4 linked regions of the Homo sapiens genome follow. The protein of the gene in region 1 interacts with the protein of each later gene in a biochemical or structural test. Each region holds a gene or a part of one and is shown in the gene's direction. Other genes may lie near its edges.

Region 1 (7,032 bases):
CTGTGAGGGATGGAAGGATTGGGATTATTGGAGAAAAATAAGGATAGCATTCCAGCTGGGCAGATCTAATTCGAGAATAAACAGGATGTGCCTGTAGATCAATGAAAAGAAAGGCCAACTGGAGTAGAGGTGGCCTGTTGGAATGGTCAGTTTAAAGCAGTTAGGAAAAAAAAAATACAGAAATACCTTTAAATTTTTTTGATAAAATAATATTATATTTTCCATTTAAAATAAATACGTGTTTTTTAGGCCAGGTGTGGTGGTTCACGCCTGTAATCCCAGCACTTTTGGAGGCTGAGGAGGGCGGATCACCTGAGGTCGTGAGTTCAAGACCAGCCTGGCCAACATGGTGAAACCCCATCTCTACTGAAAACACAAAAATTAGCTGGGTGTGGTGGTGCACGCCTGTAATCCCATATACTCCAGAGGCTGAGGCATGAGAATCACCTCAACTCGGGAGCCGAGATCGCACCACTGCACTCCAGCCTAAGCAACAGAAGACTGTCTAAAAAAAAAAGAAAAAAGAAAAGAAAAGAAATATCTGTTTTTTAATTCAAGTGTTGATTGATAAGTTACATTATGTGTCATTTGAGAAAATCAAAGTCAGAAAACATGGACAGCATTATTTCAAAGCTTTATAATAATGCCTATTTAAAAAATTATAGTGTATGTATACTTACGTGTGTATATGTACATACATATGCAATCTCTCTGTGTGTATATATATATCTTTATATCTATACACTGTGTTATATATGTTGATAATCTCCATATAAATTATACAGCTATAATAATAGACTACTATATGTTCTCTATATTAGGTATTAGATGCATATATTATATATGTAGTATATTATAGTATATTATTTTAAAAAAATAACAGATATAATTAATGATACAAATCTACTAATAGAAAAAAACTAGAATAGACTTTATTTTCTTATTTTCTTTTTGACAGAAGACTTGTAGGGGCTTTTGCTTCAGTATAATATGTCAGTTTAACCAGTAATTGAGGAAGAGTATCTGTGGCTTTGCTAAAGATGTGGTTAGTTTAAAATGACCAGTCTCTCAGTTTACCCAAATACAAATTGACTCCTCTCTGAAAAGGCATGGATAGTGTCTTATTCCCAATAATTTACTCTTATATCAAAGGCTGCGAATAGTAATCTTTGTGGCCATCGTGGCATGAAGTGTATGAAGTGCTTGGAAGACGATGAGGATGAAATGCATTGCATTCTTCCTTCGCTTGCCTTCTTGTAACTCCCACATGTGACTGCATCACTCCTATTCCAGTTTCAGGGACTTCTCTTAGGAGTAAGCATCACAAGTTCAAGACCATTCGCATGGTCTATTTGAGAAGCCAAAAGCAATAGTGTTTTCTGTCATGTCTAGAGGCAATTACATTGGACCATGTTTTTGGCTGGGGAGAGACAGTAGCATAGAAACATCTAATCTATCTATATTGATGAATACTTAGAATTACTACAAAAAAGTTATTTAACTTTTTTGATAAAAAAATGAAGTATTTTATACATCTTATAAATGATTAAGTGAATGATTTTGACTAAATGATTTCTCTGCTATCATTGAATATAAAATGCCATGGGAAATTGAGATTGGGTTGCATAAATTGATCTGATGTGGCACCCTCAACAAATCTCAGGCCAACCTATACCTATATCAGGTATTCCCTTGGCCAATGGGGCAGTAGTAATGCAGGTATTCTGGTCCATTCTGAGACATGTCCTGATCTCACTCTATCTAGCTGCTTGCATTCCTTTTGACTCTGCAGAAATGTAAATTTTGAGTTTGATCAAGAACATAGAAGAGTTTTCATCTTCCCCTTTTGCAAGTAATTCTACCTGTACTAATAATGACAATAGTTTTATCAAATGTAGTTTAGTATCCTAATGTATAACAGCATATTTAAAAGAGATTTTGTACAACATACACCTGCCTAATTGTTTCCAAAAAAGAATTATTTGTGCCAAGATATCATAAAAAAGTATAAATTTTGTCTAATGCCAACCTAGTATTTTTTTATATTTTAATAGATACTTGGAATAAATCATATCTGGACTTCTAATCTCCCTAATACCAAAATAAAAATGTCAACACTATTGATGAGATTTAATTCTTGCAAAATATGTTTTGGTTTAACAGGTTGTGTATTTAGGCTCAGTGTTCCATGGTGATTAACAGTCTTTTGTTTTGAATTTCTATAGGTCTGGCTATTTTAGTTGCCACAGCATGGTATGGCAATAGAATCGTTCAAGAATTCTATGACCCTATGACCCCAGTCAATGCCAGGTAACGCTATTCAGGCGTAAAATAGTTTGTTTTCTGAGAAAATGCCCTTTTTATATTCTACAAAGTCCTGCTAGTGCCATCATTTCCCAGATTTGCTTTCAAGAATTTTATGTCAAACCTACAAACAATTTAAATGATCTCTGACTTATGTCAAAATGAGTTTGATAATTGCTTTAACACCCTGTATTGATGACAAAATACCTTCCAAAGTAGAAAAGTTTCAAGCTCTGTGCTTTTCAACTGTATAACTGGGCTTTCTTTTGTTTGTTTTTTCAAATATTAATAAAGATGTTAATATATTTGAAATTTCCTTTTTGAAGTGTATTCTGATGTTTACAACACCTACCTAAGATTATTTGTAACTAATGCACAGTTTATGATTGATTGAGAAAAATTATACTACTATAGGGGTTAATGAATAATACTTCATTCCCAACAGTTCATTTTTACACGTAAAGCTATTATGTATGTTTTTAGTATGTTCAGATACCACCTTGAAATTTTTTGTTCTTTCACAACTGTAAAATTGGCTTTACAAAGGTCATCTTTCTTAATACTGCAGGTTGTGCAAGTTGAGCTGATTCTTAGCTCTCGTGTAACAACATTCTTTAATCAGAGACGAGGCTCTTCATCTCACTGTCTTCACATCTTTAATGCCTAATAACTACATTCAGTCAGGATGTTAAAATATAATTATTGTTTGTTGAGTGCTTAGATGAATGGATGAAAAACCTCAGTGTTTGGAGAGATAAGATGTGTTTCTTTTTATATAATCACCCACATATGGGAGAACACATACTGCAATGGTTGTGTTGGAGCCCATCCCATAAGATTTACAGTGTAAGAATAGAAACTGCTAGAGGTCAGTAGGCTAAAATTTCGCCAAGGTAATAACACCAGTAATGCACAGGAAAGCACTTTATAAATTGCCAGCCATTTTGCAATTGTTATTTACATTATTGCATGTGATCCTAAAAGCAGTCTATTGAGGCAGGTGGGATTATCCTGCTTTGAGAGTAGGAGAAACTGAGGCTGAGAGGTGAAGTTGCTATCCCAGAATTGCAGCAGTTGAGAGTCTGCATCAGGATTTAGACTTGGCCTTATAACTTATAGAACCAACCCTTCTCTACTCTTCCGTATTGTCCATAATCACTCACAGATACCCCACCCTAAGTGTCTGCTTTAATACATCTGCCTGGATCAGCTTAATCCAGAATGGTTCATGGGCTGCTTAGAACTTTTCTTTACAAAACCATAAGATTTGGATTTCAGATTGTATAGGTGCCTGGGACCAATGGATCATCTGTTCAAAGCTCTGATTATCTCCATTATGCTCTATCAGTTTCTTTATAGAATATGATTACTACTTAGTGATAAAGCTTCCTTTGCTAAGTTTCAGCCTAGGAACCATGATCCAAACCCTACTTCTAAAACATATAAACATGCTTTACAAGTATCCTATATATGGAAAAGTCCTTGGAATTATTTGTGTAATTAACCTGGTATTACATGTGTTATTTCCTGATCTACTATTGCAAATTGTCACCAATTGCAATATAAACATTCTTTGGCGTGTATGTTCAGAAATCTTAAAGTACTTCCCAAGGGATATTCAGGGGTTATTTTCAATGAAAAAAATACAATGAGTATTGATTTTTTTTCCTTTTATTATATTAGAAAAGTTGCCAATAATTCACTGATTAACAAGCACATGGGTTTTTCCTTTTAGGTACGAATTTGGTCAGGCTCTCTTCACTGGCTGGGCTGCTGCTTCTCTCTGCCTTCTGGGAGGTGCCCTACTTTGCTGTTCCTGTCCCCGAAAAACAACCTCTTACCCAACACCAAGGCCCTATCCAAAACCTGCACCTTCCAGCGGGAAAGACTACGTGTGACACAGAGGCAAAAGGAGAAAATCATGTTGAAACAAACCGAAAATGGACATTGAGATACTATCATTAACATTAGGACCTTAGAATTTTGGGTATTGTAATCTGAAGTATGGTATTACAAAACAAACAAACAAACAAAAAACCCATGTGTTAAAATACTCAGTGCTAAACATGGCTTAATCTTATTTTATCTTCTTTCCTCAATATAGGAGGGAAGATTTTTCCATTTGTATTACTGCTTCCCATTGAGTAATCATACTCAACTGGGGGAAGGGGTGCTCCTTAAATATATATAGATATGTATATATACATGTTTTTCTATTAAAAATAGACAGTAAAATACTATTCTCATTATGTTGATACTAGCATACTTAAAATATCTCTAAAATAGGTAAATGTATTTAATTCCATATTGATGAAGATGTTTATTGGTATATTTTCTTTTTCGTCTATATATACATATGTAACAGTCAAATATCATTTACTCTTCTTCATTAGCTTTGGGTGCCTTTGCCACAAGACCTAGCCTAATTTACCAAGGATGAATTCTTTCAATTCTTCATGCGTGCCCTTTTCATATACTTATTTTATTTTTTACCATAATCTTATAGCACTTGCATCGTTATTAAGCCCTTATTTGTTTTGTGTTTCATTGGTCTCTATCTCCTGAATCTAACACATTTCATAGCCTACATTTTAGTTTCTAAAGCCAAGAAGAATTTATTACAAATCAGAACTTTGGAGGCAAATCTTTCTGCATGACCAAAGTGATAAATTCCTGTTGACCTTCCCACACAATCCCTGTACTCTGACCCATAGCACTCTTGTTTGCTTTGAAAATATTTGTCCAATTGAGTAGCTGCATGCTGTTCCCCCAGGTGTTGTAACACAACTTTATTGATTGAATTTTTAAGCTACTTATTCATAGTTTTATATCCCCCTAAACTACCTTTTTGTTCCCCATTCCTTAATTGTATTGTTTTCCCAAGTGTAATTATCATGCGTTTTATATCTTCCTAATAAGGTGTGGTCTGTTTGTCTGAACAAAGTGCTAGACTTTCTGGAGTGATAATCTGGTGACAAATATTCTCTCTGTAGCTGTAAGCAAGTCACTTAATCTTTCTACCTCTTTTTTCTATCTGCCAAATTGAGATAATGATACTTAACCAGTTAGAAGAGGTAGTGTGAATATTAATTAGTTTATATTACTCTCATTCTTTGAACATGAACTATGCCTATGTAGTGTCTTTATTTGCTCAGCTGGCTGAGACACTGAAGAAGTCACTGAACAAAACCTACACACGTACCTTCATGTGATTCACTGCCTTCCTCTCTCTACCAGTCTATTTCCACTGAACAAAACCTACACACATACCTTCATGTGGTTCAGTGCCTTCCTCTCTCTACCAGTCTATTTCCACTGAACAAAACCTACGCACATACCTTCATGTGGCTCAGTGCCTTCCTCTCTCTACCAGTCTATTTCCATTCTTTCAGCTGTGTCTGACATGTTTGTGCTCTGTTCCATTTTAACAACTGCTCTTACTTTTCCAGTCTGTACAGAATGCTATTTCACTTGAGCAAGATGATGTAATGGAAAGGGTGTTGGCATTGGTGTCTGGAGACCTGGATTTGAGTCTTGGTGCTATCAATCACCGTCTGTGTTTGAGCAAGGCATTTGGCTGCTGTAAGCTTATTGCTTCATCTGTAAGCGGTGGTTTGTAATTCCTGATCTTCCCACCTCACAGTGATGTTGTGGGGATCCAGTGAGATAGAATACATGTAAGTGTGGTTTTGTAATTTAAAAAGTGCTATACTAAGGGAAAGAATTGAGGAATTAACTGCATACGTTTTGGTGTTGCTTTTCAAATGTTTGAAAACAAAAAAAATGTTAAGAAATGGGTTTCTTGCCTTAACCAGTCTCTCAAGTGATGAGACAGTGAAGTAAAATTGAGTGCACTAAACAAATAAGATTCTGAGGAAGTCTTATCTTCTGCAGTGAGTATGGCCCGATGCTTTCTGTGGCTAAACAGATGTAATGGGAAGAAATAAAAGCCTACGTGTTGGTAAATCCAACAGCAAGGGAGATTTTTGAATCATAATAACTCATAAGGTGCTATCTGTTCAGTGATGCCCTCAGAGCTCTTGCTGTTAGCTGGCAGCTGACGCTGCTAGGATAGTTAGTTTGGAAATGGTACTTCATAATAAACTACACAAGGAAAGTCAGCCACTGTGTCTTATGAGGAATTGGACCTAATAAATTTTAGTGTGCCTTCCAAACCTGAGAATATATGCTTTTGGAAGTTAAAATTTAAATGGCTTTTGCCACATACATAGATCTTCATGATGTGTGAGTGTAATTCCATGTGGATATCAGTTACCAAACATTACAAAAAAATTTTATGGCCCAAAATGACCAACGAAATTGTTACAATAGAATTTATCCAATTTTGATCTTTTTATATTCTTCTACCACACCTGGAAACAGACCAATAGACATTTTGGGGTTTTATAATAGGAATTTGTATAAAGCATTACTCTTTTTCAATAAATTGTTTTTTAATTTAAAAAAAGGATTATTGGCTTGTTTTCTAATCATTTATTGCAAGATTGCCATTCTTGGTAGAGGAGGTGGCTTGGGACAGGATCTGACTCACCATGATCCTGGGAAAGAACTATGATGCCTCTGGCCCATCTATCAAATTTGAGTGGCTCCACCCACTAGAATGCCCTATTTCTCTCAAATTGAGTTCCTCATCAAGGGTGGTAATAGAAGAGGATGCCAGGAGATGTTACTTAATACTTTTTCTCATCTATAAAAAGGGGACATACA
Region 2 (5,968 bases), on another chromosome or scaffold:
TCACACCTGTAATCCCAGCACTTTGGGAGGCCAAGGTGGGCGGATCACGAGGTCAGGAGATTGAGACCATCCTGGCTAACACGGTAAAAAACTCCGTCTCTACTAAAAATACAAAAAATTAGCCAGGCGTGGTGGCGGGCGCCTGTAGTCCCAGCTACTCGGGAGGCTGAGGCAGGAGAATGGTGTGAACCGGCGAGGCAGAGCTTGCAGTGAGCCGAGATTGCACCACTGCATTCCAGCCTGGGCGACAGAGCGAGACTCTGTCTCAAAAAAAAAACAAAAAAAAAGAGTTCGAGACCAGCTTGGCCAACATAGTGAAACTCTGTTTCTACTAAAAATACAAAAATTAGCCGGGCCTGGTGGCAGACGCCTGTAATACCAACTACTTGGGAGGCTGAGGCAGGAGAATCGCTTGAACCTGGGAGGTGGAGTTTGCAGTGAACCGAGATCGCACCATTGCACTCCAGCCTGGGCGACAAGAGTGAAACTCCTTCTCAAAAAAATTTAAAAATTCTTTCCTTGCATTACTAAAAAAGATAAATAGCTTAACATAGTTTTTAAAAAATTAATTTACACAGATATCTGAGATTTACTGAAGCCCTTAAATCTTAGCATGTAAAATTTAATAAAATCAACTTTGCCTAGTAATTCTGATTTTATCCAGTAAAATTACTTGTTTAATTTTGTCTTTAATACAGTTGACACATTACTTTCTTAAAAGATTTGAGTGAAGTTGCAAGTTTTGGGGTTTATTTTTGAGACAGAGTTTACTCTTTTTGCCCAGGCTGAGTGCAATGGGATGATCTCAGCTCACTGCAACCTCCGCCTCCCAGGTTCAAGTGATTCTCCAGCCTCAGCCTCCCAAGTAGCTGGGATTACAGGCATGCGCCATCACATCCAGCTAATTTTTGTATTTTTAGTAGAGACAGGATTTCACCATGTTGGCCAGTCTGATCTTGAACTCCTGATTTCAGGTGATCCTCCTGCCTTGACCACCCAAAGTGCTGGGATTACAGGCATGAGCCACCATGTCCAGCCAGTTGCAAGTTATTAATATTTAGTTTTGATATTTTGCCCACAGTATAGACCTGATTTCGAATACTTTTTTTTTTTTTTTTTTTCCTGAGACAGAGCTCACTCTGTCACCCAGTCTGGAGTGCAGTGGCACTATCTCAGCTCACTCCAACCTCTGCAGGTTCAAGTGATCCTCCTGCCTCAGCCTCCCGAGGAGCTGGGACCACAGGCATAAGCCACCACGCCTGGCTAATTTTTTGTAGAGACAGTTTCACCATGTTGCCCAGGCTGGTCTCAAACTCCTGAGCTCAAGCAATCCTCTCGCCTGAGATTCCCAAAGTGCTGGGATTACAGGCATGAGCCACTGCACCCAGCAGGTTTTGAATATTCTTTATTGCACATTCATTTAGAAATTCCACCATTCTCACGGTTTAGAAAACCTGTCTGATTCCCCAGCACCTCAGGACCTCCAAGCTGCACATGGACACAGATCTCAGGAGCGTTAGTGCCTCCTAGCTCGGCTTCTGATTGAGTCGGTCGAGGGCCAAGTGCCTGTGGGCTTTGGTTGCCCACTGAAGTTTGACCTCATTTAGAGGATTCTTCTGGCACTGACTTTTCAAGGGACTGAAACAGTTACCCCTACAGATGGTGAAACCTCCTGTAAATCATTTTTTAAGGTCTTTTCTTCCCTTACCAGTCCAAAATGTTTCTAGTAATATCGTGGCATTTTTAGATATGCAGCTTTAGAGTGAAAAAACCCTGAAGTTTCACTGGCTTTGTGCCGTTTTGAGGAACTATGCATGACTGAGTATATAATAAAAGTAGTCATTTAGAAACCTATTTAGATGATCAAAGATAAAGTGGAAGGTTTTGAATATATTACAAAATTTTAGAGATGCTACACTCGTATATATTTATATGTAGATAACAGCTTTATTGAGATATAATTCACTTACCATACAATTCACCCATTTAAAGACTACACTTATTTTTGACAGATCACAGTGCTGATAGCTTAATAATGCAATGGGAACTCTGTATAATGGTGGTATTTGCAGTAAGACTAACACCAGATTCAGTTCTATCTGCCTTTTTCTGTATATTACGTTTTCATGAATAGGACATGATATGACATCCAATTCCATTTAATACTAAATAGTGAAATAAGGTTCTACTTGTATTAAAAGCAGTGTATCAGTACATTTCTACTAGTATGTTATTTAGATTATCCATAATTATAGTTACTATTCAACCATTATTATTCAAACAGCATATCTTACTTTTTTCCTAATTTAAAACATTACCTAGAAAAAACTTAATTGGTAGTTTTTAAAGTTACTCTTTTAATATGCACACCAGACAGATGTTAGAGGTTTTAATATCAATTTAATATAAACTGTGTTTTACCCTGGATTAAACTGAAATGTTTCTTGTTTGTAGGGAGCAGCTGCAGATGACGGCCGATTAAAACGAGGGGATCAGATTTTAGCTGTTAATGGCGAGACCCTGGAAGGTGTTACTCATGAGCAAGCAGTCGCCATTCTAAAACACCAGAGAGGGACTGTAACCTTAACTGTGCTGTCATGAGCCTCGGGCCTGATCACAAGATAGATGTTGTTGTTTAGAATATCCACAGGCAGATGAAGTTCTGAGTGGGTATGAAAAGCACCCTCAACTAAAATGCACCTTCATTCTTATTTCTTGCCCTCTCTGCTCAGGAGAAATGGCTGAGGTTTCATGTGAATTTCCCAAATCAACAATCATCTCCTAATGTTTCCCAGTTCCTGTCACCTGTTGGCGAGGTTGATTTCTAAAACTTAAATGAGTCTACCTGTTTTGCATTTAATTTCAGTGTTCCGATTTCTTTTTTTTTTTTTTTTTTTTTTTTTGAGACGGAGTCTCACTCTGTCACCCAGGCTGGAGTGCAATGGCGCAATCTTGGCTCACTGCAACCTCGGCCTCCCAGGTTGGAGCGATTCTCCTGCCTCAGCCTCCCGAGTAGCTGGGATTACAGGCATGCATCACCACACTGGGTTTATTTTTGTTTTTTTAGTAGAGATGGAGCTTCCCCATGTGGGCCAGGCTGGTCTTGAACTTCTGACCTCAGGTGATCTGCCTGCCTTGGCCTCCCAAAGTGCTGGGATTCCAGGCGTGAGCCACTGCGCCCAGCCCAGTATTCTGATTTTAACCAACTGGTTCTGATTATATTTACCAAAACTGGAGTTAACTTCTCTTTCCTTATACTCTTCTCTCCCTATCCCCTACTCACACCGAGGCTTAACAGCAACCTCAGATCTCATCCAATGGACAGAAACAAATGTTAAGCAACTTGTCATCTCACTCATGATTTACTTATGCTAATTGTCTCTTCAAGTAAGCAAGAAAACATTAGCAGTGTAATTAATTTACCAGTGATCCCCAAGATGAAATACCAGATTCTCCTATGGGAAATTACTGTGCTGTCTTCTGTATGACTTATGGTCAAATAAGTCTCAAATTCATTTCTCTGGATAGATCTTTATATGCTAGTCATTGGTGATTTTGATGAGTCAATTTACAGACTGTAATCTTCTAAAAATTCTGAAAGACTAATTGTTTTCTGTGCCATATAAATGCATACCACTGAGCAAATGAACCTTATTCTCAGCAGGAACAACTAGCATACATGTTCTGAATTCTAACAGTGCTAAATTACATTCAAGTCCAGGAAGATCACCTGGAATTAATGGCATTTCAGTTGGCAGGCATCATTCCCACCCCTCGGTCTTAGGAAAAGGAGGTAGAAGCCCCAGAACCACACGGCAGAGATCAGCAAGTTTTGTCTCAAGTCAGACAAGGTCTAGGTGGCCTTGGCCTTATGCAAAGTGGGTGACATATTTGATTATATTTCCCTTTACCTCCATAGTAGTCAGGCCAGCAGCATGGACTGCAAGAACCTAAGGGAGCAACATACTTAGCTGCAAAGTGAGCAAATGAATTGAGCCTAGGAATATGTGATGAAAATGCATGGCTGATGTTTCCTGATCTCCAAGGAGACTCCCATTTGCTGAAGTTTTGCATGCTAAGAAATCAACTACAGCAGAAAATACAAGAATACCTTTAAGTTGATTATTGGCAATCTTATTCATATATTAGCAAGAAAAAGGGAGAGATGCTTACTGGTGGATGCTATAGAGTCCTCTGTTTTTAAAAGTACCATGGCCGGGTGCAGTGGCTCACGCCTGTAATCCCAGCACTTTGGGAGGCCAGGGCAGGCGAATCATGAGGTCAGGAGTTCGAGACCAGCCTGGCCAATATGGTGAAACCCTGTCTCTACTAAAAATACAAAAATTAGCTGGGTGCAGTGGCAGGCGCCTGTAATCCCAGCTACTCCGGAGGTTGAAGCAGGAAAATTGCTTGAACCTGGGAGGTGGAGGTTGCAGTGAGCCAAGTTCGTGCCACTCCACTCCAGCCTGGGTGACAGAGCAAGACTCTGTCTCGAAAAAGAAAAAAAACCATGAAGGATGAGTACTAGAGTCAGTAATAGAAGTAGTTCAGCATTATTTAACTACAACACAATGCTGCAAATATTTCACAGTAATTATCAAAATTTAATGGGCTCTAATTTAAAATGTTATTTAATAAGTATAGATTTTAATTGAGAATTATCTTTGAGTAGATGTAATCACAAAGTGCATTAACTCTTGTTGGAATATTTTATGGCTATTCCAAAGTATAGAGTGCCTAAATTTTGTGTTGAAAATGTCTTTCATGACGGTATTAAGTTTTCTGAAATTACACATGGCTTTTAAAATTTCTAATGTATCCAAGATGTGCAATGTTGTTAGGATCTCATTCTTCAGTGCATGAAAAGCTACTACCCTCAGAACATTTTGTGTTAATTGTACCTGCAAGAACACCTCAGGCAAGCCAAGAAGAAATGAAACCCAAATAAAACTTGAAAATGCACCTTAAAAATATATATACATATAATAGTTTTGAAATGGGATTCTGCTTTATTTTGATGGAATGGCCATTAAATACACATTTTGAGATAATACATTGTTGTGGTGTTTCTTTATACATTATCCTTTTAGGTCGTGCTAGTAAAAGTATATTGATGAAGGAATTATGATGCTTTATACTTCTTACTGCACTAAATTGATAGAACTAGTACTTGTCATAATCGGTTCTGTCTCCGCTCACATGACTAATACGTAATTGCCTTTCCAAAAAGATATTTTTGCCTCAGAACTTACTGACAAGCTGAGAGGCTATGAAGATGGAAATTTGTGAAAGAAGTAGTGCTCTTATATTTGGCCTCATCATTTGGGCCATTTCAGTATAGTAATGATATCACTAATCGGAATTAGCATGAGAGGGAAGTAAGCCAGGAAGAATAAAACTGCTGAATGTTTGTATGTGTAAGATATTTCCAAAGATTCTAAATAAATGTAGTTGCCTACAGAGCAAATGGAGTTTTATTATATATGAAAAAGTGTACTTTCTGGATCTAATTGTGCTTTTTCTTCAGCATTTTCTTCCCTAATAGAAAAAAAAAAAAAGTCCAACTTTTCACAAGGTTTTTTGGTGTCCTGTTAAAATCTGGAATCCATGGTGGCTCACGCCTGTAATCCCAACACGTTAGGAGGCCGAGGCAGATGGATCACCTAGGTCAGGAGTTCAAGACCAGCCTGGCCAACATGGCAAAACCCTGTCTCTACTAAAAATACAAAAATTAGGATGGGCGCAGTGGCTCAGGATCCATGCCGCCATGCCCAGCCAACCTCTAATGTTTCTTTCCTGGCCCTTTCATGCATGTGCAGGTGAGTATTTGACAAAGAGGCGATCTCCATGGCTCTGTCAACCTACAGCTCCCTCCTTTCCAGACACTACATGTTCTAGCCAACTTGGCTGGCCTCCCTGAACGTGAATCTCTTTCTCCTCTACTCGTGGACTCTGTGTGAGTTTCCCC
Region 3 (7,032 bases), on another chromosome or scaffold:
GCCTTCCTAGCTCTGCACATCCACAGATGGTCAGGGGCGGACAGAGCTGGCCTCTGCTCTGCAGCTCAGGCTGCGCTCTGCTCCCTTGATGTTGTGTCGTAGGATGTCGTCCCTGGCACTCCGGTCATGCTGGAGTGAAACGGCAGCTACCTTCATGTAATTCTGTTTCGTTGGTCTTTCTGCTCACCTTTGAGCCCTGGCTCAAAACTGTACTTTCAGGAAGTTGATAGCCTCTACTTTTGAAGCAGTCATTGATACCACATCCCCTTTGCCTTTGGCGTTCTGTGATTACTAAGTTAATCTACTGTCTCTCTTTCGTGGATGTTTGGGATATGCCCATACAAGGGTCTTCGCCTCATGGAACCTTGGAAGCCTTGCCTCCTACAGCCAGAGCGGGCGCTTGGTCCTCAGGGAATGCTGAGGCAGGACCATACTCAGGCACACTTAAAATCCTAGGGAGATTTTATCAAGTCTGAGATGCTGTCAGCCGTGAGATGCACCATTGTTTTGTGTCACTAAAAATGGAAGAACAGCCAGGCACGGTGGCTCATGCCTCTAATCCCAGCACTTTCGGAGGTTGAGGCGGGCGGATCACTGGAAGTCAGGAGTTCCATCCTGGCCAACACGGTGAAAACCCATGTCTACTAAAAATACAAAAATTAGCCGGGCATGGTGGCAGACGCCTGTAATCCTAGCTACTCAGAAGCTGAGGCAGGAAAATTGCTTGAACCTGGGAGGTGGAGGTTGCAGTGAGCCAAGATTGCACCGCTGTACTCTAGCCTGGGTGACAGCAAGACACTCCATTTCAAAAAACAACAGGAAGGGAAGAACAGGGCTACCAATTAAATTGTGACTTACCAGTTTTAAAGTTCCAATTTCATGGATTTTAAAATGTGCTTCATAAAACTCTGTACCTGTTTAGTATCCCTTGTCCAAACTTCTTGGGTTCTGAAGTGTCTCATATCTTGGGTTTTTTTGGATTTTGGAATATTGCCAAAATGCTCCAATGAGCATTTCCTTTGAGCTTCATTTTGACACTCAAAAAAAAGTTTCCGATTTTGGAGCATTTCAGATTTTCAGGTTAGGGATGCTTCACCTGTAGTTGGGTGTTCAAGGCATCAGATTTTACACTTTCAGGTTGCAATTCATTAATGAAGGTCGTTTGACTAATTGCCTTCAAAAATTGAATTTTTGACATTTCTCTAGAATTTTTGAAATTTTCTAGAATGGAATTTCTCTAGAAATAATATTCTCGCCAGGCGCGGTGGCTCACGCCTGTAACCTCAGCACTTTGGGAGACCAAGGCAGGTGGATCACGACGAGATCAGGAGTTTGAGACCAGCCCGGCCAATATGGTGAAACCCCATCTCTACTAAAAATACAAAAATTAGCCAGGCTTGGTGGCGTGCGCCTGTAGTCCCAGCTACATGGGAGGCTGAGGCAGAAAAATCACTTGAACCTGGGAGATGGAGGTTGCAGTGAACCAAGATTGTGCCACTGCACTCCAGCCTGGGCGACAGAGTGAGACTCTGTCTCAAAACCAAACAAACAAACAAAAAAGAAATAATATTCTCTGCGATAACCCTGTCAGTAAAATCTGTTGCCAGAAACTTATCTTGTTAAAGTAACTTCTTGATTATATGGAGAAATAAAAGTGAAAGCACGTAATACAGTAGTAGTAAAAGCAAAGCACCTGTGTATTATTAGGAATTCACTCACTAGCCATTTCTGAACTTTCAGTCCTTCAGCTGTGGAAGAGGATGAAGATGAAGATGGTCATACTGTGGTGGCCACAGCCCGAGGCATATTTAACAGCAATGGGGGCGTGCTGAGTTCCATAGAAACTGGTGTTAGTATAATTATCCCTCAAGGAGCCATTCCCGAAGGAGTTGAGCAGGAAATCTATTTCAAGGTCTGCCGGGACAACAGCATCCTTCCACCTTTAGATAAAGAGAAAGGTAAATGTGTTTATTTTTCTCCTTAGTTTTGATAACTTAAGAGTTGCCCTGTGTGCACTTCAGAGCTTATAGTGCTTGGCTAATAATGCAGCACCTCTCTATCTCCAGATGAGTGCTGTAGCGAGGGGTGCCCTGGGGACGGTGTTGCAAGCAAGCAGTGGGTGGCCTGAAGCAAGGCTGTGGTGACCACACTGCCTGCTTTTACTTTTGGTGTGAAATAAAAAATGATGGCATAGGACAGGCCACGGGATGTCTCACCTGCTGAGCAGCCTAGGCTGACCTAACCAAATTTGTCTTTGAATCAGTCAGCCTTTGCGTCTCTGGAGATGGGTTAGGTAACACCCACTCAGAAAGGCTTTGCTGTGCCTTCACCTGATTGGAGAACCTAAACCTCTTGACAGGTACTGTCTTATTCATCACCCCAGAACCTAGCACTAGTACATGCTCAGCAGAGTGCATGAAGGAGTCTCAGAGGAGATGACAGCATGTTTCTGAGCTTCTTAAGGAAACTTATTTTCATAATCCTCCTGGATCTACCAGGATATTATAACGAAGTGTGTTGTGATTTAGCATCTTTTAGCAGTGCTTTTACTTCCTAAACAAATTTAGTTCGCTTTTTTGTATTTTGCCGGAATACTGACATCTGATTCTGTACTCTGATTTTGGGGATATCCTGTTTTAAAAACCAGTAGGACTGACTGTGTTGGCCCTGCATGAATCTCTTTAACCACCTATGGAGCAAACAAAACATTTTGAAAATGGAAAATATATCACATTCGCAACAAGCACATTTGAATATGTTTTTTATTATAGACCCATATGATTGAATGCAGTAGCCACTGCCTGCACGTGGCTAGCTAGCACTTGAAGTGTGACAATTTGGGATTGAAAGATGCTGGAAATGTGAAATACACACCAAGTTCCAAAGATTTCATATATTGATTACATGTTGAAATAACAGTGTTTTCGTTATATTGAGTTAAAATATTAAAATATTGTAAGATTTGATATCACTTGTTTCTTTTTACTTTCTAACGTGGCTACTGGGAAATTTAAGATTCCATATGTGGCTGCTGTTACGTTTTTTTGTGGTCAGTGCGACTGTAGAGAACTAACTCCATTAGGCTTTCAAGCATATAATTAGAAGCAGGGTGAGGAAAACTGGGATTCTAGAAGAAAGACCACATCCATCCTCTCTGCCTATCCCCTTTTCCAACTCCAGGTGAAACACTGCTGAGTCCTTTGGTGATGTGTGGTCCCCATGGCCTCAAGTTCCTGAAGCCTGTGGAGCTGCGCTTACCACACTGTGCGTCCATGACTCCTGACGGTTGGTCTTTTGCTCTAAAATCATCCGACTCCTCGTCGGGTATGCTGTCTTCACTCTGTCCTTTGGGAGCTTTGGGGACTGTCGTTGATTAATACCTGGGCTGATGATGCTGCCCATGCTGTGTGTTAGCAAATCTCTATCTCTGTTCCTGTGGCCTTGTAGGCATCACCAGTGTTTTCACATTTATTTGTGGTGCATATATTGTAAATAAATATGGAAAGGTAGAAGACTTTCTGCCTTTTAAAAATTGATAATTTGGGCCGGGCGCCGTGGCTCATGCCTGTAATCGCAGCACTTTGGGAGGCTGAGGCAAGTGGATTACCTGAGGTCAGGAGTTCAAGACCAGCCTGACCAACATGGTGAAACCCCATCTCTACTAAAAATACAAAAATTAGCCAGGCGTGGTGGCACACACCTGTAATCCCAGCTACTCGGGAGGCTGAGGCAGGAGAATTGCTTGAGCCAGGGAGGCGGAGATTGCAGTGAGCCAAGATCGTGCCACTGCACTCCAGCCTGGGCAACAGAGCGAGACCGTCTCAAAAAAATTTTTTTTTGATAATATGGCCAAATATTGACTATTTCTTGGTGTTCAGAAAAATGATTTATTCTGTCAAATTTTTCAGGATGCAGTGGGAGATATTGTCCTGCACAAATAGGCATTTTTACCTTATTAAAATGACTTTGTTCCTTTATATAACTATTTCTATTTTTGGTTACTATTGTTTAATTTATTTTTTGTTTGTTTGTTTTGATTTGGTTTTTTGAGGTGGAGTCTCGCTCTGTCGCCCAGGCTGGAATGCGGTGGCACGATCTCAGCTCACTGCAACCTTCGCCTCCCAGCTTCAAGCGATTCTCCTGCCTCAGCCTCGATTACAGGTGCCCACCACCATGCCTGGCTAATTTTTGTACTTTTAGTAGAGACGGGGTTTCACCATGTTGGCCAGGCTGGTTCGAACTCCTGACTTAAAGTGATCCACCCGCCTCGGCCTCCCAGAGTGCTGGGATTACAGGTGTGAGCCACCGTGCCTGGCCTGTTTAATTTCTTAATCTACAACGTATGTATACCAGAGAAACTTAACAAGATCTTCCGTTGTGATCATACTTGGCCATGGTTTTTCAGTGTAATACTCTAAATTACTTCTTTTATACACTATTTGTAAATGACTTTTTCTCCTGAGATAATTTCAAAGCTTCCACTGCATTTTCACATTTCTCACTTCCTTGAGTGACTTAAGTCAGTTAATAATTAGAATTTTATTTTGGGTGTAGATCACTTTAAGCGAACCTGATTTAAAGTCTAGCTTCCAAATCTTTGATAAATCAGATGAGCATTATTTAGTTTTAGTTTGGTACAGTATGAAATAAAAGTTTGTGGTCTAAAGATTATAGCAAGAGCATATTTTAATGTTATCAGAGGAAAAAATTACATGTAAATACATATTTCCTCATATTTACAAGTACCCCATTTTCTGGAAAAATGAAATGCTTTTGGCTCCAGATATTGCTTAGGTAATGTCTAACGTACTGTAAGCAAAGTTCTCAGCTGGCACTGTTGACATTTTGGCCAAATGATTGTTGTAGGGCCCTCCTGTTCGTCGTGGAATATTTAGCAGCTTCCCTGGGCCTCTACCCCTAGATGCCAGTGGTAACAAGCAAAACTGTCTCCAGATGTCCCATCAGGGGCAGGGTCATTCCTGTTTGAGAGCTACTTCTGTAAGGGAAGCAAACGTCCACAGCTGTGACTCTCAGCTTGCTTGGACACCACAGAGACATATAGTCGTCCCTGCCTTCACATCTAATAGAAATCACCAAGAGCTTATTAAAAACTTAAATCCTGAGACCTAACTAACACCCAGTCAATGAGTTTTTGAAGCTGCATGATTAATTTTGTTGTCCAGCTGGAATCAGAGCTGAGCAGCTCTGGTGCAGTCTCGTTTTTTTGCTTGTTTTTTGTAAGGGGGAAGACAGTCTTCAAGAACTAGATTCTGCAGAACTGGGCTTCATTTGTTGGTTTATAGTTGAGTGTGAGAAATGTGTCCTCATTCTCAGCTCAAATAGGTGATCACATAATTATCCTCCAGACTTTCGAAACTGGAAAAAAAAAAAAAGTGCTACTGATAATTATGTGGGCTCTGGCAAACTGGGACTGTCCCAGGCATAAGATTGCCATCACTCACTTGTATTCATTTTTTGAAAAGGCCAATGCACTTGATAATGTAATAAAGGAGAAGTCTGAAAATTAAAAACAAAAAACAAAAAACTGTTCTTAATGGTGTGAGTTAGAAAGAACGTTTTAAAAAAAATTTTTTTAGAAGTGTGAAACACCTTTGGAATTGTTAGATGCCAGCAGATCTGCTTTGAAATACAGCAATGTGTTTTGATACAAATTCAATATGCTGAAGAAACAGAAGAAAATTATGTCTAAATATACGTATTTGCCCTATAATTGCAAAGCATTACGGATAGCAGTTTACTGAACTGTAAATGACATCAACTTCTTTTCTCTCATAGGTGATCCTAAAACCTGGCAAAACAAGTGTCTTCCCGGAGATCCAAATTATCTCGTTGGAGCAAACTGTGTTTCTGTCCTTATTGACCACTTTTAACTCTTGAAATATAGGAACTTAAATAATGTGAAACTGGATTAAACTTAATCTAAATGGAACCACTCTATCAAGTATTATACCTTTTTTAGAGTTGATACTACAGTTTGTTAGTATGAGGCATTTGTTTGAACTGATAAAGATGAGTGAGCATGCCCCTGAACCATGGTCGGAAAACATGCTACACACTGCATGTTTGTGATTGACGGGACTGTTGGTATTGGCTAGAGGTTCAAAGATATTTTGCTTTGTGATTTTTGTAATTTTTTTATCGTCACTGCTTAACTTCACATATTGATTTCCGTTAAAATACCAGCCAGTAAATGGGGGTGCATTTGAGGTCTGTTCTTTCCAAAGTACACTGTTTCAAACTTTACTATGGCCCTGGCCTAGCATACGTACACATTTTATTTTATTATGCATGAAGTAATATGCACACATTTTTTAAATGCACCTGGAATATATAACCAGTGTTGTGGATTTAACAGAAATGTACAGCAAGGAGATTTACAACTGGGGGAGGGTGAAGTGAAGACAATGACTTACTGTACATGAAAACACATTTTTCTTAGGGAAGGATACAAAAGCATGTGAGACTGGTTCCATGGCCTCTTCAGATCTCTAACTTCACCATATTACCACAGACATACTAACCAGCAGAAATGCCTTACCCTCATGTTCTTAATTCTTAGCTCATTCTCCTTGTGTTACTAAGTTTTTATGGCTTTTGTGCATTATCTAGATACTGTATCATGACAAAGACTGAGTACGTTGTGCATTTGGTGGTTTCAGAAATGTGTTATCACCCAGAAGAAAATAGTGGTGTGATTTGGGGATATTTTTTTCTTTTCTTTTCTTTTCTTTTTTTTTTTTTTTGACAAGGGGCAGTGGTGGTTTTCTGTTCTTTCTGGCTATGCATTTGAAAATTTTGATGTTTTAAGGATGCTTGTACATAATGCGTGCATACCACTTTTGTTCTTGGTTTGTAAATTAACTTTTATAAACTTTACCTTTTTTATACATAAACAAGACCACGTTTCTAAAGGCTACCTTTGTATTCTCTCCTGTACCTCTTGAGCCTTGAACTTTGACCTCTGCAGCAATAAAGCAGCGTTTCTATGACACATGCAAGGTCATTTTTTTT
Region 4 (7,032 bases), on another chromosome or scaffold:
AGAGACAGGGTTTCACCGTATTGGTCAGGCTGGTCTCGAACTCCTGATCTCAGGTGATTCGCTCGCCTCGGCCTCCCAAAGTGCTGGGATTACAGGCGTGAGCCACCGCGTCCGGCCAAAATGAAGGGAGAGCTTTAAATGCTGGCCTGAAGACATTTGGCTTTATGATATTAAAGGATATTTTTTCCCAAAATAGTAAAATCATTACTCTCATACAAATACAAAATGAGGCCGGATGCGGTGGCTCACGCCTGTAATCCCAGCACTTTGGGAGGCCGAGACGGGTGGATCACGAGGTCAGGAGTTCAAGACCAGCCTGGCTAACATGGTGAAACCCTGTCTCTACTAAAAGTACAAAAAAAAAAAAAAAGGTGCTTTATGTGTCTGCTTAATTCATTAATTAATATGGGAACCGGTAAGACTTTATAGCCTATACAGAGGGGAATTAATTTGTTTCCTTTCTTTCTTTTTTTTAAAAATTGAAAATAGAAATGGGGTTTTGCTGTGTTGGCCGGCCTGGTCTCGAGCTTCTGGGCTCAAGTGATCTGCCAGCCTCAGCCACTCAAAGTGCTGGGATTTCAAGCGAGAGCCACCGACCCGGCCTCAGCATTCTTGATTGCCTGTGTGTGTGTGTTCTTTCAGTTCTCCTCTGGACCAGACACGGTGGCTCACGCCTGTAATCCCAGCATTTTGGGAGGCCAAGGCAGGTGGGTCACTTGAGCCCAGGAGTTTGAGACCAGCCTGGCAAACGTGGTGAAACTCTGTCTCTACTAAAAATACAAAAATTAGCCAGGTGTGTTGGCGTGTGCCTATAATTCCAGCTACTTGGGAGGCTGAGGCAGGAGAATTGCTTGAACCTGGGAGGCAGAGGTTGCAGTGAGCCGGGATCGCACCACTGCACTCCAGCCCCAGAGACAGAGCAAGACTCCATCTCAAAAATGTCATTCCGTGCCCAGAATGACAGCACCTTAGCGTAGATGGTTTCCATGGGGCAGGGGGCCCCCTCTAGCCCTGGGACACTGTAATTCACCTTTGGCTTTCCCACTGGGGGCCCGAGTGGAGTTAGAAGCATGGAGAGGCAGCCCAGGGGATCCTTAGTGGCAGATGCTTAAACCTTTGAGCCTTCCCTGAAATACTGCTCAGGGTCAAAACCGGGATCCCCGTTTTACAGATGAGGAAGCTGAGGCAGGGGCTGGAATTCACATGGGCTCTGCTTTTCTCTCTCTGCTGTGGAACTTCCTTCTAGAGCTCAGCCGTCCTCCCTTTTGGGGGAAATGGCATCTTTGGCATGGCTTGGTGGCTCCCGCCTGGAATCCCAACATTTTGGGAGGCCGAGGTGGGAGGATCGCATGAGCCCAGCAGTTCAAGACAGGTCCGGGCAACATAGCGAGATACCGTCTCTACAAAATATACAAAAATCTGCTGGGCAGGGTGGCGTGCACCTGTGGCCCCAGCTACACAGGAGGCTGGGGTGGGAGGATCGCTTGAGCCCAGGAAAGTGGAGGCTGCAGTGAGCTATGATTGCACCACTGCACTCCAGCCTAGGTGACAGAGCAAGACTCTGTCTCAAAAAAAAAAAAAAGAAAAGAAAAGAAAGTCCCCTGTTGAACACCCTGAGCTGCATTCCATACTCCAAGCTTCTAGCAGGTTCCACACTCCTCCTACTTCAAAGTGCCCCCCATGAGTCCTACTTCAAAGTGCCCCCCATGAGGTCCTCCAGCCTCCCCAGGACGCCAAACCCTGAGACGTTCTTCAGCCCTCCAGTGCCTTAGGGCTGAGCCGGCCACACCTAGAATCTGCCCTTCCTCAAAGGTCGTTTGGATCTTGGCAACCCACAGACCGGGGCGTCTCCTCCCACCTGGCTGCCCTCCATCTCTGCTCTCTGTCTCTGCTCCTGCCCCGTCCTCTCCACACGGCTTCCTTAAAACCTCCCAGGGTCCCCCAAAACCCATGACGCCAGTCTAGTCATGAGGGAAACAGCTGGTCCCCAATGTCCCCACATTGAGAGTTATTCTGCAAAAGACCTGCCCAGCACAGACTAACAGGTCACAGAACAGGAAAGACAGAATCGGTCACAGCCCAGCGGTGTCTAAGGAGACGTGACAGCCAACTACCAGGTGGGATCCTGGATGGGGCCCTGGGGCGGCAAAGGGCCTGCGGAGAGACGTGAATAAAGTGTGGAGTTCAGTGAACAAGGTTGTACTGATGTTGACTTCTTGGTTTTGACATATGTACCCGTGTAATAATGTTAATGTTAGTGGAAATCAGTTGGGTGTATAAAGGAATTCTCTGTGTATTTACTTTTCTGTAACTTTAAAATTATTATTATTATTTATTTATTTCTTTTTTTGAGACAGAGTCTCGCTCTGTCGCCCAGGCTCTGGAGTGCAGTGGCACGATCTCGGCTCACTGCAACCTCCGCCTCCCAGGTTGAAGTGATTCTCCTGCCTCAGCCTCCCGAGTAGCTGGGACTACAGGCGCCCGCCAACATGCCCAGCTAATTTTTTTTTTTTTTTTGTATTTTTAGTAGAGACGGAGTTTCACCGTGTTGGCCAGGATGGTCTCCATCTCTTGACCTCGTGATCCACCTGTCTCGGCCTCCCAAAGTGCTGGGATTACAGGGGTGAACCACCACGCCCGGCCTATTATTATTACTATTATTTAATTTCTTTGTTGTTGTTTTGAGACAGAGTCTCTCTCTGTCACCCAGGCTGGCTGGAGTGCAGTGGCGCAATCTTGGCTCACTGCAACCTCTGCCTCCCGGTTCAAGAGATTCTCCTGCCTCAGCCTCCTGAGTAGCAGGGATTACAGCAGCCCGCCGCCACACCCGGCTAATTTTTGTATTTTTAGTAGAGACAGGGTTTCATCATCTTGGCCTGGTTGGTCTCAAACTCCTGACCTCATGATCCTGCCTCAGCCCCCTGAGTAGCTGGGATTACAGGCACGTGCCACTACGCTTGGCTAATTTTAGTATTTTTAGTAGAGACAGGGTTTCACCATCTTGGCCAGGCTGGTCTCAAACTCCCGACCTCGTGATCCACCCGCGTTGGCCTCCCAAAGTGCTGGGATTACAGATGTGAGCCACCGCGCCCAGCCCGTTCTTTTAGTATTTATTGAGCACGTACTGCATACACAGTGATGGGGCTGCAGAAGAACTGATTGACAGACACAGTGGAAGCCCACAGTCTTTAGGGGAGACAGACAATAATTGAATAATCGCATATGTAACTAAAAAGTACAATTAGGCCAGGCGCAGTGGCACACACCTGTAATCCCAGCACTTTGGGAGGCCAAGGCGGGCGGATCACGAGGTCAGAGTTCGAGACCATCCTGGCCCTGATCCACTGGGGGACCTCAGCCCAGCCCCTGCTATCTCTGGGCCTCAGTTTTCCCACAAGCACTCAGAAGGGGTTGAGCTGGCTCATCCCAGGGAGGCCTCCAGAACTCCACCTTCCCTGGGTCCTCCTGTCCCTCACCCTGCTCAGATCACACTGGCCCTGAACGCTGGTTCCCAATCACACGTCATATACTTGGCTTGCAACAGTTTTGTTGACTGAGTGACTGAATGCACAGAAGAATTAAGGCACAAATGAAGTAGATTGCTGAAAAGCAGATTTTCTCTTTTTTTCCTTTTCTTTTTGCTATTATTATTTTTACTTCGTGAGGCAACAGTAGAAAACCAGGTTTTTTGTTTGTTTGTTTGGTTGGTTGGTTTTTTTTTTTTTTGAGATGGAGTCTCGCTCTGTCGCCCAGGCTGGAGCGCAGTGGCGCAATCTCGGCTCACTGCAACCTCCGCCTCCCGGGTTCACGCCATTCTCCTGCCTCAGCCTCCCGAGTAGCTGGGACTACAGGCGCCCGCCACCACACCCAGCTATATTTTTGTATTTTTAGTAGAGATGGGGTTTCACCGTGTTATCCAGGATGGTCTCGATCTCCTGACCTCGTGATCCGCCCGCCTCGGCCTCCCAAAGTGCTGGGATTACAGGTGTGAGCCACCGCGCCCGGCCAAAAGCAGGTTTTTAATTCATTAAGGTGATCCGAAGGTCAGGGGTGGTGGGAATAAGGGGCTTAAGGCTATGCCCATCTCCAAAGCCTTGGATTTGAACCCAGGTTTGGAGGATGGTACTAGGGAGCCATCGAGTGTTCTTGAGCAGGGCATGGATATGAGAGCAGACGGTGGGTGGTTGGAGGAAGACAATGTGTCCTGGTGCAGTTATCCAGCTTCCTCTCTTAGAGGGGTTGACAGTGGGATTTCTCTGCGTTGCCCATTGACATTTGGGGCCAGATCCTTCTCTGGGATGGGGCCATTCTGGGCAATGCAGGGTGCTTAGCAGTATCCCTGGCCTCCACTCACTCATGCCAGGAGAACCTTCCAGGTTTATTTTTTTATTGTTTCATTTTATTTTATTTTTTTGAGTTGGAGTCTCGCTCTTGTCATCCAGGCTGGAGTGCAATGGCGCAATCTCGGCTCACTACAGCCTCTGCCTCCTGGGTTCAAGCAACTCTCCTGCCTCGGCCTCCCGAGTAGCTGGGATTACAGGCACCCACCACCACACTCGGCTAATTTTTGTATTTTTAGTAGAGATGGGGTTTCCCCATGTTGGCCAGGCTGGTCTCGAACTCCTGACCTCACGTGATCCACCCACCTCAGCCTCCCGAAGTGCTGGGATTACAGGCGTGAGCCACCACGCCCGACTTGTTTTATTTTTGAGATGGAGTCTTGCTCCATTGCCCAGGCTGGAGTGCAGTGGCGCCATCTCAGATCACTGCGACCTCTGCCTCCCGGGTTCAAGTGATTCTCCTGCCTCAGCCTCCCGAGTAGCAGGGATTACAGGTGCCTGTCACTACGCCCAGCTAATTTCTGTATTTTGAGTAGAGACGGGGTTTCACCCTGTTGGCCAGGCTGCTCTCGAACTATTGACCTCAAGTGATCCGCCCATCTCAGCCTCTCAAAGTGCTGGAATTACAGGTGTGAGTCACCGCGCTCGGCCTGGTATTGAACACCAAAATGTCTCAAGACGTTGCCAAGGGTCCCCCTCTGGTGAGAGGCACTGGCTTGGAGTTCGAGGTGCAGGGGCAAACAGAGCTGCAGCCAAATCCCTCAGGCCAGCTCACCATCTGGCCTCAGTTTTCTCAGCTGCAAAGTGGGCGCACGAGTGTTGTGTGTAACTGGGGCTGCAGCCAAGCATATGCCAGTAAACATGGCCCGGGAGCCCCATTCACTGCTAGGACTTTAACCCACTTATTTCTTTATTTATTTTTGAGACAGCGTCTAGCTCTGTCACCCAGGCTGGAGTGCAAGGGCAAGATCATGGATCACTGCAGCCTCGACCTCCTGGGCTCAAATGATCCTCCCACTTCAGCGCCTAGAGGTGCCTGCTACCACACCCAGCTCATACATATATATATATATATATATATTTTTTTTTTTTTTTTGAAACAGAGTCTCAGTCTGTCGCCCAGGTTGGAGACAGTGGCACGATCTCGGCTCACTGCACCCTCTGCCTCCCAGGTTCAAGTGATTCTCCTGCCTCAGCCTCCCGAGTACCTGGGATTACAGGCGGGTGCCAACACGCCCAGGTGACTTTTTTTTTTTTTTTTGAGACGGAGTTTCGCTCTTGTTGCCCAGGCTGGAGTGCAATGGCCCGATTTCGGCTCACTGCAACCTCCGCCTCCCGGGCTCAAGCAATTCTCTTGCCTCAGCCTCTCTAGTAGCTGGGATTACAGGCATGTGCCACCACACCCAGCTAATTTTGTATTTTTAGTAGAGACGAGGTTTCTCCATGTTGGTCAGGCTGGTCTCGAACTCCCAACCTCAGGTGATCCGCCCGCCTCGACCTCCCAAAGTGCTGGGATTACAGGCACGAGCCACCACGCCTGGCCCATGACTGTTATATTTTTAGTACAGACAGAGTTTCACCATGTTGGCCAGGCTGGTCTCAAACTCCTGACCTCAAGTGATTCGGCCGCCTTGGCCATCCAAAGTGGGATTACAGGCGTGAGCCACTGTGCCCAGCCATAGCTTATATATATATATATATATATATAATTTTATTTTTTTTTGAAACATAGTGTTGTGCTGTCTGCCCTGTCACCCAGGCTGGAGTGCAGTGGCGTGATCTCAGCTCACTGCAACCGCCGCCTCCCAGGGTCAAGTGATTCTCTTGCCTCAGCCTCCTGAGTAGCTGGGATTACAGGCGCCTGCCACCATCCTTGGCTAATTTTTCGTATTTTTGTAGAGATGGGTTTTGCCCTGTGGGCCAGGCTGGCCTCCAACTCCTGACTCAAGTGATCCTCCTGCCTTGGCCTCCCAGAGTGCTGGGATGACAGGCATGAGCCACTGCACCCTGCCTAAGATATTTTTAAAAATTTTTGTGGATGTGGAGATGGGGGTCTCACTGTGTTGCCCAGGAATGAGAGTACAGTGGTGTGACCATGACTTACTGCAGCCTCCACCGCCTGGGCTCAAGCAATCCTCCCAGCTCAGCTTCCCAAGTAGCTGGGAGTACAGGCAAGTGCCACCAAGACTGGCTAATTAAAAAAAAAAAAAAAGGCCGGGCACGATGGCTCACGCCTATAATCCCAGCACTTAGGGAGGCCGAGGGGGGCGGATCACAAGGTCAGGAGTTTGAGACCATCCTGGCTAACACGGTGAAACCCCATCTCTACTAAAAGTACAAAAATCAGCCGGGCATGTGCCTGTAGTCCCAGCTACTCGGGAGGCTGAGGCAGGAGAATGGCGTGAACCCGGGAAGCAGAGCTTGCAGTGAGCTGAGATTGCGCCTGGGCAACAGGGCGAGACTCCAACTCAAAAAAAAAAAAAAAAAAAAAGTGTGTGTGTGTGTGTGTGTGTGTGTGTGTGTGTGTGTGTGTGTCTGTGTGTGTGTAGAGATGGAAGTCTCACTCTGTTACTCAGGCTGGTCTCTCCTGGCCTCAAGAGATCCTCCCGCCTCGGCCTTCCAAAGTGCTGGGACTACAAGCGTGAGCCACTGTTCCTGGCCAAGCCTCTTATTTTAAAGACGCTGAAGTCAG

What was found.
Region 2: the proteins of CLDN1 (region 1) and PATJ form a complex in vitro, tested with the Homo sapiens proteins (2 studies listed by BioGRID and IntAct, with this or other methods).
Region 3: the proteins of CLDN1 (region 1) and TJP1 form a complex in vitro, tested with the Homo sapiens proteins (2 studies listed by BioGRID and IntAct, with this or other methods).
Region 4: the proteins of CLDN1 (region 1) and TJP3 form a complex in vitro, tested with the Homo sapiens proteins (one study listed by BioGRID).

What each region holds. Positions count from the first base shown.
Region 1 is NC_000003.12:190,305,447-190,312,478, reverse strand, and holds the end of CLDN1 (claudin-1), read left to right. Parts: intron 1-2,225; coding exon 2,226-2,310; intron 2,311-4,039; coding exon 4,040-4,202; 3' UTR 4,203-6,772; downstream 6,773-7,032.
Region 2 is NC_000001.11:62,158,454-62,164,421, forward strand, and holds the end of PATJ (inaD-like protein), read left to right. Parts: intron 1-2,454; coding exon 2,455-2,601; 3' UTR 2,602-5,462; downstream 5,463-5,968.
Region 3 is NC_000015.10:29,700,454-29,707,485, reverse strand, and holds part of TJP1 (tight junction protein 1), read left to right. Parts: intron 1-1,740; coding exon 1,741-1,958; intron 1,959-3,180; coding exon 3,181-3,324; intron 3,325-5,796; coding exon 5,797-5,891; 3' UTR 5,892-7,032. UniProt on the Homo sapiens protein: TJP1, TJP2, and TJP3 are closely related scaffolding proteins that link tight junction (TJ) transmembrane proteins such as claudins, junctional adhesion molecules, and occludin to the actin cytoskeleton.
Region 4 is NC_000019.10:3,711,382-3,718,413, forward strand, and holds part of TJP3 (tight junction protein ZO-3), read left to right. Parts: intron 1-7,032. UniProt on the Homo sapiens protein: TJP1, TJP2, and TJP3 are closely related scaffolding proteins that link tight junction (TJ) transmembrane proteins such as claudins, junctional adhesion molecules, and occludin to the actin cytoskeleton.